Homo sapiens: one gene and its partners. The protein of the gene in region 2 binds, or shares a complex with, the protein of the main gene of each other region. Each region holds a gene or a part of one and is shown on either strand. Other genes may lie near its edges. The genes, in order: TAF5, TADA2B and TAF4.

Region 1 (7,168 bases), on a different chromosome or scaffold from region 2:
TAACCCTGACACTCTACATATACCGAGCACCTACTGAATGAGGTAATATGATACAAAAACTTAGGGAAAATCAGAGTTCTTTACAAGAAAAAAATAGCAGGGGTAATTAACAAAGTATAGTCAAATAAGGTCAATTGAGAAAGTTTAAGAAATGTGATATGTCACTTAAAACTCAACAATTTTTGACCCTAAAATAAAGATGCTATTTTCCCATGCTGTGTAAGCTATGTAAGAATTAAAAAGGAAATGTCTTTTGAAGAAAAAGAAAAAAAAACTACAGACATGCTAATAATTCTCTACCTTTTTCAAGCATAAACACAAAAGATTGATAGTCAGAAGGTTATTACAATTTTCACTGAAATCAGACGTTTCCCTCAAAAATGTATCATCTGGCAAAACCTTATCAAGCAACAAAAAACCTAATTCTCAAAGTTTCGTAATGATGAAACCTTGATGGATGGAAAGCTATTATCTTTTTTTCTTTTCTTCTTTTTTTGAGATGGAGTTTTGCTCTTATCACCCAGGCTGGAGTGCAGTGGTGCAATCTCGGCTCATTGCAACCTCTGCCTCCCATGTTCAAGTGACTTTCCTGCCTCGGCCTCCCAAGTAGCCAGGATTACAGGTGGGCGCCACCACACCCTGCTAATTTTTGTACTTTTTAGTGGAGACAGGATTTCCCATGTTGGCCAGGCTGGTCTCAAACTCCTGATCTCAGGTGATGCGCCTGTCTTGGACTCCCAAAGTGCTGGGATTATAGGCGTGAGCCACTGTGCCCGGCCTGAAAGCTATTATCTATCCAAGTAATATACTGATGGTATTATGAATACAAAACACCCTCCACCCATTTTTACAGTGTTAGAGATCATGAAAAATAGGCAAATACCTATACACATAGGATGACATTGTAATCATACACCTAAAGGGAAGCAAACCAATTTTGAATTTCCTTTTTCATTTACTCTTAGTACTTTTGATTATAGAAAGATTAATCCTCAATTACTAGCTAATATGCCATTAATGTCAGGAATTTGTCTTAAATTTGATGAAGCAGCCAGAAGACACAATGCAGGGACCCAATGAAGCAATTCAACCCCTAATGGAGTTCTATAAAACTAAAGCTTTGGTTGGTTATTTACCATTGGGTAACAAATAAAAATAATTAAAAAAAAAAAAGGGAAATACTAAAGCTAATTTTTAAAACCAGTAAGCCCTGAAACTGTGCATTTTGATTCTATAAATTTGAGTATACAGGCCAGGCACAGTGGCTCACGCCTGTAATCCCAGCACTTTGGGAGGCTGAGGTGGGCAGATCACCTGAGGTTGAGAGTTCAAGACCAGCCTGACCAACATGGAGAAACCCCATCTCTAATAAAAAAATAAAATTAGCCAGGTGTGGTGGCGCATGCCTGTAATCCCAGCTACTCAGGAGGCTGAGCCAGGAGAATCGCTTGAACCCAGGAGGCGGAGGTTGCGGTAAGCCAAGATCACGCCATTGCACTCCAACCTGGGCAACAAGAGCGAAACTCTGTCTCAAAAAAAAAAAAAAAAAAGTGAGTATACATTAAATTGCTACCATGTACAAACACCAGGATTCAAAGATGAATTAGCAAATGGCAAGATTCTAAAAGATGATGAACGTCAGACAACCATGAGATTTTTATCAGAATTTTCCCAGCATTTGCATAATGTTTCCAGTAGTTAACTTTTATATAATTTCAATATAACATAGCAGTATTTAATTTTTATTGTTTGTATTTTACCTATCCGGACTGAAGCTGGCTCCGTAGACAGGCCCACTGTGACCATACAAAATCTTCAACTCACTTGCTGTTTTCTCATCCATGATTCTTTCTAAGACATCATCTGATTCTTTGTCTATAAGACTAAGATCTAAAATGGTCCAGAAATATTGATATTTTATAAGTACATTCATCAAAACTTTTAAAGTAATCATATCACAGTGCAGGAGAGGAATTAACATTTGAAAATTTCCTCCTATATACCAACCGCACTTTGCTAATCCCTCTAAATTAGGCAGTATCATCTCAGCGTGTAAGAGAAGAAAATGACGTTCAGAACAGATAATTTGCTAGAGTGCACACAGCTACTCAGTGTGGGAACCAGAACTGAAACTCAGTTTTGCCCACTATGCCACAGTGTTTCACAAAATGAAAACTATGGGCCAGGCATGGTGGCTCACACCTGTAGTCTCAGAATTTTGGTAGGCCAAGGCGGGCAGATTGCTTGAGCCCAGAGGAGTTCGAGACCAGCCTGGACAACATGGAGAAACCCTGTCTCTACAAAAAATAAAAAATTAGCCAGTGTGGTTGCACACACCTGTAGTCTCAGCTACTCAGGAGGCTGAAGTGGGAGGATCACTTCAGCCCAGGGATTAGAGGCTGCAGTGAGCCGTGATCACACCACTGCATTCTAGCCTGGGCAACAGAGTGAGACCCCATCTAAAAAAAATTTAAAATTAAAAAAAAAAAACCTATGGAAATATTGAAATAATTTAAAATATATTGTTTTATTTAAATAATATAGTTAGTAAAAAACTTTATTTCAGGCCGGGTGTGGAGGCAGGAAAATCGCTTGAACCAGGGAGGTGGAGGTTGCAGTGAGCCACCTATAATTCCAGCACTTTGGGAGGCCAGACAGGCGGATCACTTGAGGTCAGGAGTTCGAGACCAGCCTGGCCAACATGGCGAAACCCTATCTCTACTAAAAATACAAAAATTACCTGGGCATGGTGGTGGGCACCTGTAATCCCAGCTACTGGGGAGCTGGGGAGCTGACACAAGAAAATCCCTTGAACCTGGGAGGTAGAGGCTGTAGTGAGCCAAGACTGCGCCATTGCACTCTAGCCTGGGTGACAGGGCGAGACTCTGTCTCAAAAAAACAAAAAGTAAAAAACTTTCAAATAAAATCCTGACCTTATTTGTTCTTTTTAGCCATTTTTATGACTAAAACAGGAAGTACCATCCCTTATTTAAAGATTTTTTAAGATTTACAAGCAATCATAAAATGTTAGATTTTTAACTTTAAGTTTTTTAGCTTAATACTCACTCATTCTACAGATGAGAAAACTGAGACCTAAAGAAATTAAACCAGTCTAGCACCCCAGTCACTCCAAAGCTTTTTTCACTGTTGGGAATGTTAGAATCTTGAGTTAAAGTAAAATCAAGTGAATTTCTGTAAAGAACACAATCTCCTGTGTATTTTCCATGGAATCAAGATTGGTATAGACTAATGGCAAGTTCACATTCCAAAAGGTCATCTCAGTTACCTGATGCTTGTTTGACACTACGAAGCTTTTTGGGTGTTACCGACCACACTCTGACAGTTGAATCTGCAAAACCTCCAGCAATCAGACTAGAATCATCAGTGACATCCACTGCAGTGAGACCCTGCCAATAAAAGGGTTAGACTAAACAATACTATTTTAGGATATTTAGAGATAGGAAGCAAATGTTAATCATTTTCACACTATACTAAATATCTCCTCAATCCTCTATTTTAAGGAATATATAAAGACTTTTAAAATTCTTGATTTAAAATATTGGCCAAGCGCACTGGCTCATGCCTGTAATCCCAACAATTTGGGAGGCTGAGACAGGTGGATCACCTGAGGTTAGGAGTTCAAGACCAGCCTGGCCAACATGGTGAAACCCCATCTCTACTAAAAATACCAAAATTAGCCAAGCAGGGTGGTGGGCACCTGTAATCCCATCTACTTGTGAGGCTGACGCAAGAGAATCACTTGAACCCAGGAGGCAGAGGTTGCAGTGAGCCAAAATCGTGCCACTGCACTCCAGCCTGGGCGACAGAGTGAGACTCCATCTCAAAAAAAAAATAATAATAAAATAAAATACTAAGTTTGGCCGGGCGCGGGGGTTCATGCCTGTTATCACAGCACTTTAGGAGGCTGAGGCGGGTGGATTGCCTGAGCTCAGGAATTCAAGTCCAGCCTGGTCAACCTGGTGAAACCCCTTCTCTACTGAAAATACAAAAATTAGCTGGGCGTGGTGGCTCATGCCTATAATCCCAGCTACTCAGGAGGCTGAGGCAGGAGAATCACTTGAACTGGGAGGCGGAGGTTGCAGTGAGCCAAAATTGCACCACCGCACTCCAGCCTAGGTGTCAGAGCAAGACTCCATCTCAAAAAATGAAATTAAATTAAAATAATAAAATAAAATAAGGTTTATATGGCTGGGCACGGTGGCTCACGCCTGTAATCCCAGCACTTTGGGAGGCTGAGGCGGCCAGATCACTTGAGGTCAGGAGTTCAAGACCAGCCTGGGCAACACGGCAAAATCCTGTCTCTACTAAAAATACAAAAATTAGCCAGGCATGGTGGAGGGTGCCTGTAATCCCAGCTATTCAGGAGGCCGAGGCTGAGGCACAAGAATCGTTTGAACCCGGGAGGCAGAGGTTGCAGTGAGCTGAGATCTCACCTCTGCACTCCACCCTAGGTGACAGCACAAAACTCTGTCTCAAAAAAAAAAAAAAATTGATAAATAAGTTTACGTAAGTACTTAAACCAAGTTCAACAGAAATGAACTACAATTTGCTCCTCCTCAAAGGCTAGCAGAATTCTGATCGGTGAAACAAATGCCATTAAACATTGACTTCTATCTATTCTGTGCAGTATCCAATTCTCTCTTCCTGAATGCTGTCTTTAAATTGTATAAGAGTTTAGGGGCCACATGCGGTGGCTCATGCCTGTAATCCCAGCACTTTGGGAGGCTGAGGCAGGCGGATCACAAGGTCAGGAGATCGAGACCATCCTGGCTAACACGGTGAAACCCCATCTCTACTAAAAATACAAAAAATTAGCCGGGCATGGCGGTATGCGCCTGTAGTCCCAGCTGCTGGGGAAGCTGAGGCAGAAGAATGGCATGAACCTGGGAGGCGGACATTGCAGTGAGCTGAGATCGCGCCACTGCACTCCAGCTGGGCGACAGAGCGAGACTCTGTCTCAGAAAAAAAAAAAAAAGGAGTTTAAATAACGAAACTCCATTTTAGCTAATACATTTGTTTCTCTCTTAATGGTAAATCATCATCCTACATGACTCTCCAGGCAGAAATCGCCCAATTTTTTTACCAACCTGGTAAGCATTGAGAAATGTATAGAAACAAATGGAGGGTAAGCAGTCCGGCCCAAGGCGCACTCGTTTGGTGGTTTCTTTCATATTCATTATCTTATCCAACTTATCTGAATCTTTCAACTCAGGAAGAGGGATTCTGTGAAAGAAAAAGAGAGTCAAAATTACCTTTTGACTATTAACAAACTTGAACTCTATATAACATGTTGTCTTATACCTCCACACACAAGTTCCTGAAGTTTTTTCCTCACCTGTTCTGAGGTGGAGCATTGGGATCTTGTTTTTTGCTTTTGGATCCAATACTATCTTTTTTAGGCTTCTTCTTTTTAGGTTTTCCTTCTTCATTTTCTCCCTCTTCATCCTCGTCATCCAAAGGTACCTCAATTTCTGGTTCTTTTAATAAACCAAAAAATACCTACAAGTCAAAAGAGCCAACATTTTTAAAATTATTTATTCATTAATATACCCATTTTACATCTTGATAGGATAAATCACAATTACAAAATAGTAATTTACACTCTGAAGCAGGGTTCTGTATTTGTCTACCCAATAGCCATTCTCCCCTTTTTCCTTACTAACAGAACCCTGATTTTATTGGAGTAGCAATGTGCTCAGTTAAATCATTTCTGTTCCCAGGCTCCCTTTCAGCTAGGAATGTCCATATAAGTATACTGGGTATGGTTGTATCAAAAAAATATTGTTTTCCTGATTAAAAAGGGAAAGCTTCAGCAGAGATATGCCTTTTGTCCTCCCCCTTCTTCCTTCTTGGAACGGAGCTGCAATGCTGAAACTGCAACAGCCATTTGTGAGCACAAAGAGGAAAGCCACATTCTGAAGATGGTGGATCAGAAACCAGAAGGAGCCAGGGACCTTGATGGCACTGTGGAGCCTTCATGCCAGCCCTGGAAGGCCTTCCTCTGAAATTCATTTTATGGGAGAAAAATTCTTTGTTTCAGCCACTGCATTCAGGGTTCCATAAAATGCAACCATACCCAAATTGTCACATATAAACATCACCCTTAGAACACAAAATTTTATATACAGTATAAAATTGTTTCCAAGCGGCCAGGCGCAGTAGCTCACGCCTGTTATGCCAGCACTTTGGGAGGCGGAGTCGGGTGGATCATCTGAGGTCAGGAGTTCGAGACCAGCCTGGCCAACATGGTGAAACCCTGTCTCTACTAAAGTAAATACAAAAATTAGCCAGGTTGGTGGCGTGTGCCTCTAATCCCAGCTACTCGGGAAGCTGAGGCAGGAGAATCACTTGAACCCAGGAGGTGGAGGTTGCAGTGAGCTGAGATCACGCCACTGCACTCCAGCTTGGGTGACAAGAGCAAAACTCCGTCTCAAAACAAACAAACGAAAAAAATTGTTTCCAAGCTAGCTATAAGAAAAATGTGTAACTTATGTAGATGGAAATGCTACAATTTTTCATAATCTGCATTATAGAGTTCTTAGGTTCATTCCCATACCTTTGATTTGTTTGCCTCTCGTTTAGCCTCTCCTGCCAAACTTCCCACCATCGCATCTATCTGTTGCTTACTACGCGGCATCCCATCAAAGATGTCAATGTAGAGGTGCTCCTGAACTATGTTCCATATCTGATTGTTCTGTTTCTCCTGAAGATGCCTCTTCAAGAGTTGGTACGAGTCACGGGAAATACGCAGAACAAATTTACTTGTTCGAAAATCCAACATGGTCTCATTCCCTTTCATGTGTTCCTTTTTGGTAAGACTAGATAATACTCGTAGGTCATCCTGGTAATAACATTCCTGATCTCCATGGAACCTGTTTCAGTGATTTTAAAAAGTCATTTTTCAATGTAATCATTAAGGGATCTGCCTTTCCCCCATATACTTATAAACCATCCCAGAATATTTTCAATGTAGTAGTCTAAATAATCCTGAACTAAGCTGTAGGATAAGAAGTAACTCATTTCAAAATGACTATAATTCAGTTTCTGAATTTATTCTAAAAATGAACAAATGTAATTCTCTAATGAAATGTATCACAAACATTTTAAGAAAAGAACTTAAATATCCTAAGTGAAAAATAATATACCC
Region 2 (7,885 bases):
CCAGAGCGGGCAGAGGCTAAATATGCCAAAGTGGGACACGCCAGCTCTGTGCACATAGCTGGATACATGCTCAGAAGAGCACCACCCATCTCAGAGCTGCAGAACAGCCTCAGAGGAAGAAAAATAAAGTCCCGGGGGATAACGCAACGAGGTTCTGCCAGGGAGATGGCAGCACGACCAAATACTGGTGCCTCACCACTCCGGGGGGGTGGGTGGTCACGGGCCAGTGCACCCCCTGAGTCCTGGTTGCAATGCAGGCTCTCAGGCCTCACCGTAACCTCGCGCTGGTGCAACGGGAGAACGCCCTGACCGCAGCCTGGCCAGGCTCGCTGTGCACCAAGTCCCAGCCCCATTCTCTTCCTGTCCTGGCTCTGCCTCCTCTACCAGCTGAGTCAGAATCTGCATTTTCACCAGCTCCCCAGGTGCTCTGTGTGCACATTCGTTCGGAAAGTATTGTTTTAGAAGAGGCCTCTCCACTTCTAGCCTGGTTTCTTCCAAAACCACATAGATGTTTTTGTTCCCCAGGTCTTGTGTTCTGTGTATTTTCCACAGTGCCGCAGGGAAGGCAGTGCAGACAGTGAAGTTAAGAGTACAGGCTCTGAAGTCAAACTGGTCCGTCCAAAGCCAACTGCCAAGGGCTGTCGGGAAAATGTCCTGAGATACGCACAGATATGCCACCAAGGCTCTGCGCCTCCTTAGCAGCTAACGTAGAGGTAAGTGCTGGGATGGTGAAGGGAAGGGCCCTCTGAGGCACTGATATTTAAGTGGAAAGCTCAATCCTGGGCCATGATTTACAGGGAGAGCACTCTAGGTAGAAGAAATATAAAACGATCAAGGGAGGTAACAGATGAGATCTCATTGCTCAACACTTCTAAAGCTGCCTTAATTGAAGTAAAAGCCACTGAGGCCGGTGTGAGGCGCTTTGTGCTTCCAAAGCTCGCTCCGGTTATGGTGTGTGGAATAGGGGAATGGGGTGGAGGGGGAATAACGAACAAGGAGGCTCCCAAAGTGGTCAAGGCAAGAAGTAAACGTAAACATCAGCCGGGACTACGGCTGTAAGAAGTGGTTTGTTCTGCATGTACTGTGAGGAGACAGCTGATAAATTGGATCAGGAACTTAGTGGAACAAGGAACTAAGAGAGGCAGGTAGGCCAGGGAGGCGGCTGGACATGGAGGGCTGGTGCTAGGGAAGAGCTCTGGGCCTAGGACCAAGTCAGTACCACACTTTAAGCTCCCTGAATGCAGGGATAAAGCCTTCTCTTTCCTTCAGAGTTCTCCGCCACTGTAGAATCCGCACAGAACACATGCTCAGTGCATATCCACAAACAGCATGGAAGGACAAGGTGGGACGGAGTTTCTGAAAAATGGAGATCCCAGTGCTGGTGGCCATTAGGTAAGGGTTTGTAAAGGAGCATCTTCTCTAAGGAGTTGGGAGGAGAATCAACATTCCAGGGCTTCAGAATGAGTATGTGAGGCGGCCCTGAGACTCACTCAGGAAAGGAAAGCAAAAGGCAATCAAAGCAGCCCAGGCAGGACTGCTGGAGAGGTGGCAGCGAGATGGATGCTGTTCCGAGAAGCAGGCACCTGGTGTAGCAGGGGAAGACTCTGGAAAGCTAAGGGCGCTGGGGGTGTCTCACTCCCCTCCTCCTCAGGGTGCCCGGGGATGGCCACATGTCTTTGGTGGTTATGAGCGGGAATACGGCTAGAGATTTTCTCCTTTCTAATACGGATGCAAGCTTCCAGAGTGGAAGGAGAGCTGAGAGACCGCCCAGAGAGAACCATGTTCCTCTCTCAAGGACAGAACCTAGCACACGATGTTGCTAGCGTAAGTGGATCCAGTCCAGCTCTCACCGCTCCCCACACAGGGCTGTCTCTACAGAAACCTCAAAGGTAAAGAGAGCAAAACCCAAGCCCCAGGCCTCCCAGGCCAGGCCTCTTTGTTCATTCTTTACTGACCATTCGCACAAGGTCGTGGGTTGTGGGGACCCAAGCATAAACCAGGCACGCTACCCACAAAAGACTCTGTGCACTGCGGACCACACAGGGCACATGCATACAGTGACAGAAAGCAAACGGGGCCGCCCCAGAGACCCCGAGACAAGCCGCAGGGCGCCCACCGCTCTCCTTCCCTGGTGCTCCCACCGCTTTCTGTCGAGTCTGTGGGCCTGCCTGTCTCCACGAACTCAGGTAAGGCACCGAGTCTTGCCCAACGTCTGCACTCCGCAAACGCCTGTGAAGGCGTCCCTGAAGGTGAGGGAAATGGCTCTGCTGTCAGAAGCCAGCGTTCAAAGCCCCACTCGGCCCCGTCTCGGCTGTGTGACCTTGGGCGCGTCACAGCCTCTCAGAGCATAGGTTCCGACAGGTGCCCGACTATAAACCGGCAGCGTCGCCCTCCCCACCTCCGGGGCCTTCTGGGGTGCGGAGCGAGCGAGCAGGTCCAGCGCTGCCTGCGCGCCCGATTACAGGAGAGGCGCGGGCCTTCCAGTGCCCTAGCCGGGACCCGGCCCCCGTCGCGCCGCTCACCCAGTTTCCGAAGCCGAACTGCTCGATGGCGTCCAGCAGCAGCTGCTCCTCGCGACTGGTCCAGCCGCCCTCGGCCTCGGGCCCCCAGAGCGTGAAGCGCCCGCCGTCCACCAGCTGGTAGCCGTGGTAGCGGCGGTGGTGGCCGATCTCGGCGCCGGCCGAGAAGCACTCGGGGCACAGCTCGATGTCCTGGCACTCGGTGCAGCGGAAGCGCAGCGGGCTCACCTCGGCCAGGCAGTACACGCAGTACTTCTTCCCCAGCTCCGCCATCTTCCCCCGCTCGCCGCCCGCCGCCCGGCCCGCCGCAGCCGCCGCGCCCCCGGCCGTCAGCGCCCCGCCGCCCGCGGGACCCGCCGCCGCCGCCGCGCACGAGCAACCGCCGCCCGCCGCCGCGGCTGCCGCCACCGCGGCCCCAGCCCAGCCGCCGCCAGAGCCAGCCAGCCGGGCCGCGTCCCCCCTCAGTACGCAGGCGCCGTCCGGCCCGGCCCGGCCGCCACCGCCGCCGCAGCTGTCGCCCCGCCGCATCGCGCAGGCGCCCCGCGGGCGCCACCTTGCGGACGCCCGGCCCGCCGCTCTGCGCCTGCGCGCCCCCCGCGCCGGCCACCGCCGCCTTTCCCAGAGCCTCCTGAACGCCCCGCCCCAGGCCCGGCGGTGGGAAATGGGCAGGCAGAAAGCCCGGCGGGGGCGCCACGCCCCTCGCGGCGAGAGCCCACGGCCGCTTCCAATCAATCTCGCCTATCGTCAGCTCGCGGCCTCCCATTGGCTTGCTCTCGCCGGGCAGCGGGGAGAAGGCGCTGGACGACGGCCTGTCGCCTGGCCAATCGCCGGGCCCAGCGCGCGCGCCTTCTGTTGCCCCGGGAAACCTAACAGCGTCCTGCCGGGGTCCGCTGCGCTGGCCGAGCCGGGAGGAGATGGACGTCAGCTCTGAGCACACTAAGGACCCCGGCGGGGAAGGCGGAGACGGGGAAAGCCTGGCCGCGCGGCCGTCCAAGATCAAGGCCAGCTCTGGCCCTCCGACCTCTCCCGAACCCGGGGAGCTGGAGTCGGAGCCGGAGGAGGAGGAGGAGGAGCAAGCGGCTTCGCAGGGAGGCACCGCCGCGGACGAGCAGGCCGAGGCCCCGAAAGGGCTAACGGCAGCCGAGGCTGCGGGCGAGGAGGGGCCTGGAGAGCCGGGGAGGCCGGCCGAGCCCCAGCCCGAGCCCGAAGAGCCGGCCGAGGTTGGGGCTGAGGAGCCCGCCCAGCCGGAGCCCGGAGCCGGGCCCGAGGAACTAGAGGCGGAGGCGGGGGCGGAGGAACTGGAGCAGGCGGCAGAGGGGAAGGAAGTCAGGTTCCAGGCCTCTCTGCCGCTGACCAGGATCGATGAGGAAGAGGCTGCTGCAGCCCCGGAGGCCGAGACAGAGCGGGTGGAGGGGGAGGAAGAGGACAAGGAGGAGACGCAGAGAGACGGCGCGGAGAGCAAGGAGAGGGATGGGGAAGGACGCCCGGCCAAAAGCCAGGAAGAGGGGAAGCGCCTCTATGGAAGGGACGAGTTTGAGGACCTCGAGTGGTCCGAGGAGGTCCAGAAGCTGCAGGAGCAGCAGCTGCGCAGCGACCTCCTGGACCAGTACCGTTCCCTGCTGGTGGAGCGGAACCGCTCCCAGCGCTACAACCTATACCTGCAGCACAAGATCTTCGAGGCGCTGCGCAGAAAGAAGGGCCTGGAGGCCGCTGAGGTGGCTGACCGGGGCGCAGAGGCCGAGGCCCCCGAGAAAGAGCAAGCGTACCTGCGCCATCTGGGCATGCTGGAGGAGCTGAAGAAGCAGCAGGCAGACGACCTGCAGTGGTACCACCAGGAGCTGGGCCAGTTGAAGCGGCAGTGCCAGGAGAAGCTCACCAGGGTGGAGAAGGAGTGGCGACGCTTCCAGGCACTCAAGAAGCAGGTGGTGATGCAGGCCATGGGCAGCTGTCGGATGAGGGGCGGGCGCCAGGCTGCTCTGCGAGAGGTGGAGCAGATCCAGGCGTTGGAGGATAAAAAGGAGAAGGAGATGAGCGCCGTGCGGCTGGAGAACATTCAGCTGAAGCAGAGCCTGGTGCATTTTGAAACCAGGATGAGGACCCAGGAGGACCTGACCCAGGGTCTGCTTCTTATTGACTTTGAACAGCTGAAGATTGAGAACCAAACCTTCAATGAGAAAATTGAGGAACGAAATGAGGAACTTTTAAAACTTCGCAGCAAGGTGACCAACAGTGTGCAAGTAATAACCCACGTGAAGGAAAAGCTGCACTTCATGGACATGGAGAACGCGTGCAAAAAGACACAGCTGGCAGAAATCGAGGCCCAGGCCGCCCTAGGAAGAGACATCCTGACCAAGACGAAGCAAGCCCGAGAGGGGCTGCGGACGGACAACATCAGACTGAATCAGAAGTGCGGCCTTCTAGGCAAGGACTCACTTCTTCGGGACTTGGAAGAAAAGGTGGACAAGACCGAACTGCTTCACCGGCGCCTGGAATCCCTGAAGCGCCACCACGCTAGCCTCACTTTGTCCTGCAGAGGCGTGAGGCAGAAGATCAGGGAGGCCAAAGCCTTTCTCCCTTCTTGACCAGATCGATGAGAAGAGTCTGCAAAACACTTCATCCTCAGGACGTGCTGTCCTGCTTTATTTTACCTTCGTTGCTATTAAAAAGGCCTGTGTCATTTGGGACGGGACTCTATTTTGTATTTATCTCAAAACGTTTTAGCTTCCAAATCAGTGCTGAGCCCAAACCTGGGTTAGGAGTTTTATCTGGGATTGAGCAAAAATAGGTCCAGAAAAGCAAACAAAGGGTGATTTAATGTAACTGACTTCTCATGAAAAACTGTCAAAAGTCTCAAGTCTGAGCAATTCTATAATTTCAGTGATGTAATACTAAAGAGTACTGTTCCTCTTTCATATGTAGGAGGGTTTAAAAGTTCAGCGAATGGGCAAGGTACAAAAAAACCCTGTGCATTAAGCTAATTATTAAATTCTTTGGATTTATTAAATTATGTAGTCCCGAGACACTGTTTCAGTTAGAAGCTCACTAATCCCCTTAGATTAATCTTAAATTTAAGTGATTTTGGGCCGGGCTAGGTGGCTCACCTCTATAATCCCAGCATTTTGGGAGGCCGAGGTGGGCAGATCGTGAGGTCAGGAGATCGAGACCATCCTGGCTAACACGGTGAAACCCCATCTCTACTAAAAATACAAAAAATTAGCCAGACCTGGTGGCGGGCGCCTGTAGTCCCAGCTACTCGGGAGGCTGGGGCAGGAGAATGGTGTGAACCCTGGAGGCAGAGCTTGCAGTGAGCTGAGATCGCACCACTGCACTCCAGCCTGGGCGACAGAGCGAGACTCTTGTCTCAAAAAAAAATTTTTTTTATATGTGACTAGCACGAGCTTAGGGGGCAATAAAAATATCCAGGAAACAGGAGAGATGATAAACAGGAGAGGAGCTGATGTTTCTTCATCGTCCCTTTTTCAATGAAAGGGAGTTCAGTCTACTCACTGTTGATGGTTGTTTCTGCTTCAATGACAGTCTTCAATTATTATTATTATTATTATTATTATTATTATTATTATTATTATTATTATTTTCCTTGGGACAGGGTCTCTGTCTCCCTGGCTGGAGTGCAGTGACAGGATCTCGGCTCACTGCAACCTCCACCTCCCGGGTTCAAGCGATTCTCCCGCCTTAACCTCCTAGGTGGCGGGGATTACAGGCACAGGCCACCATGCCCAACTAATTTTTGTATTTTTAGTAGAGATGAGGTTTCACCATGTTGGCCAGGCTGGTCTCGAACTCCTGGCCTCAAGTGATACACCTGCCTCGGCCTCCCAAAGTGCTGGGATTACAGGCGTGAGCCACCGTGCCTGGCCTGACAGTGTTCAAGTCTAATGAAACATGTTCTTGGATCCTCTGAAGAAATGCATTAATCTGTACCAAAAAATGAAATTTTGGCCCGGGCGCGGCGGCTCACGCCTGTAAATCCCAGCACTTTGGGAGGCCGAGGCGGGTGGATCACGAGGTCAGGAGGTCGAGACCATCCTGGCTAACACGGTGAAACCCCGTCTCTACTAAAAATACAAAAAAAAAAATTAGCCGGGCGTGGTAGCGGGCGCCTGTAGTCCCAGCTACTCGAGAGGCTGAGGCAGGAGAATGGCGTGAACCCGGGAGGCGGAGCTTGCAGTGAGCCAAGATAGTGCCACTGCAGTCCAGCTTGGGCGAAAGAGCGAGACTCCGTCTCAAAAAAAAAAAAAAAAACTGAAATTTTGTTTTCCAGTGAAAACAAAATGACAGTTGTATTGCATGCTTTGCAAGGTGTAAAATATATTACACGGTGGCTGCTGGCATCACAGGAGACAGAGCCTTCTGTATCAGTCTATTTCAGATCTCGACAACAGGGCCCTTGCTATACACGAGTTCATTGAGTATCAAATAGTAAAATGCCCCTTATTCCTTGTGTCAAAAATACCTGGTAGGTCTGTTTCCTTAATGCAATATCAGTGATTATCTTGGAGCTAGGGGCTTGTTTTCATTTCTTCTTAATCCTAGATTGAATTTTGAGATGTGCAGATTTGGGGTTAAACATATTCTCCCACTCCTACACTTAAGTGAATCATAAAAAAATGCAACACGGTTTTTGGTGCTGGCTACCTCTGAAGAACGGTGGGAACCCAACTCTGGGCAGGGGACTTGGTTGTGAACGTTATCTTTGGATGCCATGATTTTGTGTTTTTTTTCTTTTTTTTTTTTTTTTTTTGAGACGGAGTCTCACTCTGTCTCCCAGGCTGGAGAGTGCCGTGGCATGATCTCAGCTCACTGCCACCTCCACCTCCCGGGTTCAAGCGATTCTCCTGGCTTAGCCTCCCGAGTAGCTGGGATTACAGGCGCCCGCCAGCACATCTGGCTAATTTTTTGTATTTTTTAGTAGAAACGGGGTTTCACCATATTGGCCAGGCTGGTCTCAAACTCCTGACCTCATGATCCGGCCGCCTCGGCCTCCCAAAGTGCTGGGATTTACAGGCATGAGCCACCACGCCCGGCCATGATTTTGTTTTGTAAAGTGTGCTCCCTTGGAAGCCAATGAAGGTTGATTAAAATTCCTTTTCTAACTTTCATGGCTCGAATACACTTTTTTAAATCAAACCACTCAAAAGTAGTAATGAGTTAAAAAGCTTTAGGCCGGTCGCCATGGCTCACACCTGTAATCCCAACATGTTGGGAGGTCAAGGCAGGTGGACCACTTGAGCCCAGGAGTTTGAAACCAGCCTGGGAAACATCACAAAACCCTATCTCTATAAAAATACAAAAAGATTAGCCGGGTGTGGTGGTACATGCCTGTGGTCTCAGTGCCTCAGGAGGCT
Region 3 (4,752 bases), on a different chromosome or scaffold from region 2:
CTTTGTGATGGCAGCCCCAGTGGGGCAGTGCAACAGGTGTGGGAACAGGGGCAGTGTCTCCAGCAGAACGTGTACGTAAACCTGCATATCGCTGTGGGTCCGTCACAGTAGGTGGAGTGAACGTCACAATGGGAGACCAACTCCAATTGCATCAGAGACCGTTCCCAAAGGCTCTCCAAGGTGCTCGAAGGCAGGGAGCGGTACACATTGGCGCTGAGCCTCTGAGGGCCCAGCAGGAGCTGTGACCTGTCAGGACCAACCAATACCACAAACTGCCCTGGAGACGCCCTCTCTCGCCACAGGAGGTCTGCGTCAAGGCTGGGGCCCTCTGGGCACCTCAGCCGGGCTCGCCACGTGCGTTTCTGTGTACATCTCCCCCAGCACTGGGCCTCCCGCCGCCCCTCCTAGCTGTGCCCAGCTCATCTCCACCTGTGACAGCAGAAGGTGTTAAGCGCAGCCGCCAGCCCCCAGACTCCACGCAGAGAGTAGCTCGGCCCCTGTCCTCACAGAGAAAGTTCTTTCTCCCGGCTCTGATGGGGCTCAGCTACAGATTCCAACAGGTGGCTCAGAAACCAGCACCTCAGCAGAGCCGGAGTGCAATCTGGCAGTAGAATCTAAAACTGGAAAACGGAGGAAAAATAGGCAAAACAAATACAGATAAATTTGTTTTTAATAAAGGAGTTAATTTTCTTTCAATCCTATATAAAACAATAGCAATTAAAAACTTCATTTCTGAAAGTAAAATATTTACATATGAACAAGTAACTGTGCAAAATTTACATGAAAAAATGGAAAGACAGGGATTTCCTAAAAGACAAAATAAAAGGTGTAACAGTTCTCAGGTGTTGATAAAAAATACTGATCAGCGTTCAGTTCACACGCGCTCGAATTAAAGTCTAATGTGAGAATTCACACGGAGAAAGCCAGAGTATTTACAGTCATAAAAGTACTATCAATAGACAATTTCATACAATAACCTCTGAAAATAGAAAGAACCAATTAGTATATTTGTAATAAAAAAATAGGTACAAAGAAGGGGCTTTGCTCTGGACGTCTGTAAAGTCGGCCCAAGGCTTGCATACAGTCTCTTAGCAAAATAATTATAGTTTACATAGCCATTTCTATGTCATGTGCCAAAAGTTATGTACAATTACTGACAAAATACACCAACCATTTTTCAACACTTGATTCACACCGAGAAACAGTCTTTTGATGATTCTTCTCAACTTTGATTTTATTTAATCTAGGTTTTCACTTTTAGCTAAAAAACACAGTGCAAGTAAAATATATTTATGCTGAAAAGGTTTTCATCTCTTTTAACTTTACAGCTTTACAAACTATAGCAAATAAAATGCATTTGTACAGATGCTGACCACACATTCAGAAGGAGCCACCTTTGCTGGGCTCGGCCTCTACCAAGCAGAAATGCGATTACACTCTGAGGTGGGGGTGCAACGATGAATTGTGTATTCCTCCAGGATTCTCAGCGGAGTGGAGGGGAAGGGAGGGGAGGGGAGGGCAGGGGGCAGAGAGGAGAGCGGGGTGGGAGGGGAAGGGAAGGAAGATAAATAGTCTAAAAAATCAGTTTGCTTTGCCAACTGACTATTACAAAAATAAAATAAACGAAATGAGGTCATCGGCTGTAGACATACACCTACATAGTAAGTTAGGTAGAACTAAACCAAAATGCACAAATAATGCAGAAACTGCTATGAGTTGACAGAGGGCAGCTAATTATTTGCTAACGATTCCATCAGTCTTTATATATGGCTTGTTTGGCAGGAAGGCCACTCAATCAAGATGAGTTAAGATTTAATTGTCCTTTAAGAGTATCCACAGGCCTTTGTGTTCTCTCTGTTACAGAAACGTGTTTTCTTTCACACTGAAGAGCTGATTTAGAAACAGGAATATAAAACTGTTCCATTGTAAAGAGGTGGCTGTTTTTTAAACAATATCCCATTTGCTCGTTACAAAAAGGCGTAATCTGCAAATATATAAAAAGTCCCCAGGCGTCCTCCTGTGTCACTTAAGGAATGCTTTGTAGAGCAGCAGTGAATGGCTTGTCTCACGTTCATTTTCTAAACAAAATATGAGGTCCCTGAGGTTGACCCGCGTGATTCTTTGTCGCGTGAACTGTCTGGGGGTTCCGACACCCGAGCTGCCTGGGACCACTGAGCCGGGGCCCGACCCCTGGTGATGAAAAAGGAGAAGACAGTGTGTTAGTGGGGCTCAGAGTGGGGCTTGCAATGAGCCTGTGTATCTGAGCCAAGTACCCCGATTCCAGAGGAGGCCAGGCCTGGCACGGGCTCCTTCCGGTAGGCCCACAGCTGGAGCTGGGGTGCTGTCCAGGGCCCTGCCAGGGCAGGGGCAAGGGCAGGAGGCCCCATGCTGCACCTTCAGGACAGGGCACACTCAGATGCTGCCCAATGCCCCACAGTGCTTGGACCTGGTCCTGGGGCTGAGGATGGACTAGGGGGTGGCACCCACCCAAGGCAAATGGCTGAGCGGCCCCAGGGCCACCCTCCATGTGACCACAGCTGGACTGCCTGTGGACTCAGCTGGGGCACAAAAGCCACACTAGGTCTGTGTGTGTCATCCCCGCTTGGCTGCTGAATTCCTGCACTGGGAGGCCTGGGGTTGGCTGGGACTGGGCATGCTGGGTCAGCTGGGAAGGCTGGGTTTCTCAGTGGCTCCCACAGTGATCCCTGAGCCTCTGGCTGGGCCCTGGCTGCACAGACGCCGCCTCCGTCAGCCCCTACAGGTGACCAGGTGTCTCCCGAGCTGCCTCAGATGTGTTCCTGCTTGGAGAAGCATAGCTGCTGCGTGCCAGCTCCTGTGGAGAGCTCTGGCGGTTTCAGCTGATGACACCTGCATGACACCGCCCAGCAGGGCACGCGCCACACACACGACACCGCCCAGCGGGGCACACGCCACACACACGACACCGCCCAGCGGGGCACGCGCCACACACACGACACCGCCCAGCGGGGCACGCGCCACACACACGACACCGCCCAGCGGGGCACGAGCCACACACACGACACCGCCCAGCGGGGCGCGCGCCACACACACACAACACCGCCCAGCGGGGCGCGCACCACACACACACGACACCGCCCAGCGGGGCACGTGCCACACAACTCCCAACAGCTGTCATTTCCCCCAGCTGGCATGAAAACTAAGTTCTGCTCCGATGGTGAAAGCTGCTCACATATATTTAAGTACAAAGATTACGATGGCATCTTTACAGCACATTCTCAACCAAAGTTAAGATGCTGGAAGGAGCGGATTCTGCTGTGTGTGCCAGTGGGAGCCTTGCTGTGAACAGCCCTGACATGGCCCCGCCCCTCATGCCGTCCTTCCTCCCCCCTTCCCCGTTCTGCCACTTTCAGTTCAGGCTGGGAGCATGGCTGCCTTGTGTGATGGCATGCAAGTGTGTCTCTGACCCACTGCATTTTCTTTATTCCTGTGAGATTCAAACAGATGAGGGCACCTGTCTCCGTTCAGACGCCCTGCGCTGTGAGGGCCCTTCTTCAGACCTGCCCGGGGTCCCTTTGCTACTGAAGCCTCCGCACTCCACACTAGCTCATTATAAAGTGATCCGCACCTGAGGGCCAGGCCTCCCAAAAGAGAACTCAGGCGAGGTGAGTGACAGTTTGCAGGGTGAGGGCAGGGCTCTCACAGGCACCACCCAAACAGGCTGTGTGACCCAGTGACACCTGCTATAAATTCCGGACTGTGTTTGATGTTTCTATCTTCAAAATAGTTCAGCAGCTAAAAAAGAGGACCGGGGTGAAGGAGAGACGCTCATCTCAGGTGCTCAATTTAAAGGCTGCCGAGGGTAAGAAATCAAGATATTCTAACGCAAGTGTCAGCACCAACCAAGGGAGGGCACGAGACCAACCAAGGGAGGGCGCGACACCAACCAAGGGAGGGCGCGAGACCAACCAAGGGAGGGCGCGAGACCAACCAAGGGAGGGCGCGAGACCAACCAAGGGAGGGCGCGAGACCAACCAAGGGAGGGCGCGAGACCAACCAAGGGAGGGCGCGAGACCAACCAAGGGAGGGCGCGAGACCAACCAAGGGAGGGCGCGAGACCAACCAAGGGAGGGCGCGACACCAAGGGAGGGCGCGACACCAACCAAGGGAGGGCGCGACACCAACCAAGGGAGGGCGCGACACCAACCAAGGGAGGGCGCGACACCAACCAAGGGAGGGCGCGACACCAACCAAGGGAGGGCGCGACACCAACCAAGGGAGGGCGCGACACCAACCAAGGGAGGGGGCGAGACCAACCAAGGGAGGGCGCGACACCAACCAAGGGAGGGCGCGACACCAACCAAGGGAGGGCGCGACACCAACCAAGGGAGGGCGCGAGACCAACCAAGGCCGGGGGCGAGACCAACCAAAGGAGGGGGTGAGACCAACCAAGGCCGGGGGCGAGACCAACCAAAGGAGGGGGCGAGACCAACCAAGGCCGGGGGCAAGACGAACCAAGGCCGAGGGCGAGACCAACCAAGGCCGGGGGCGAGACCAACCAAGGCCGGGGGCGAGACCAACCAAGGGAGGGGGCGAGACCAACCAAGGCCAGACGGTGCCTCCTTGGGGCTGAGGCCACCCCCAGGGCCCAGCACGCTGAGAAACTGATGCCAGGCCCTGCTTCTGCACCAAGCTCTGAAGGTGCACTATGAATGAACAATATAACTTCTCCAGATTCTGTGAGTTTTATCAATACAAATTTTTCTTCAAATT

What was found.
Region 1: TADA2B (region 2) and TAF5 share a complex: the UniProt entries of both Homo sapiens proteins name them as parts of the TFTC-HAT complex.
Region 3: TADA2B (region 2) and TAF4 share a complex: the UniProt entries of both Homo sapiens proteins name them as parts of the TFTC-HAT complex.

The regions. Positions count from the first base shown.
Region 1 is NC_000010.11:103,377,960-103,385,127, reverse strand, and holds part of TAF5 (transcription initiation factor TFIID subunit 5), read right to left. Parts: intron 6,894-7,168; coding exon 6,578-6,893; intron 5,521-6,577; coding exon 5,357-5,520; intron 5,245-5,356; coding exon 5,109-5,244; intron 3,408-5,108; coding exon 3,287-3,407; intron 1,891-3,286; coding exon 1,761-1,890; intron 1-1,760. UniProt on the Homo sapiens protein: The TFIID basal transcription factor complex plays a major role in the initiation of RNA polymerase II (Pol II)-dependent transcription.
Region 2 is NC_000004.12:7,038,487-7,046,371, reverse strand, and holds the start of TADA2B (transcriptional adapter 2-beta), read right to left. Parts: upstream 3,001-7,885; 5' UTR 2,793-3,000; coding exon 2,523-2,792; intron 1,393-2,522; exon of another isoform or gene 1,270-1,392; intron 714-1,269; exon of another isoform or gene 141-713; intron 1-140. Other genes in the region: CFAP184 (cilia- and flagella-associated protein 184), read left to right, coding at 3,434-5,101. UniProt on the Homo sapiens protein: Coactivates PAX5-dependent transcription together with either SMARCA4 or GCN5L2.
Region 3 is NC_000020.11:61,974,146-61,978,897, forward strand, and holds the end of TAF4 (transcription initiation factor TFIID subunit 4), read right to left. Parts: intron 2,191-4,752; coding exon 2,023-2,190; 3' UTR 653-2,022; downstream 1-652. UniProt on the Homo sapiens protein: The TFIID basal transcription factor complex plays a major role in the initiation of RNA polymerase II (Pol II)-dependent transcription.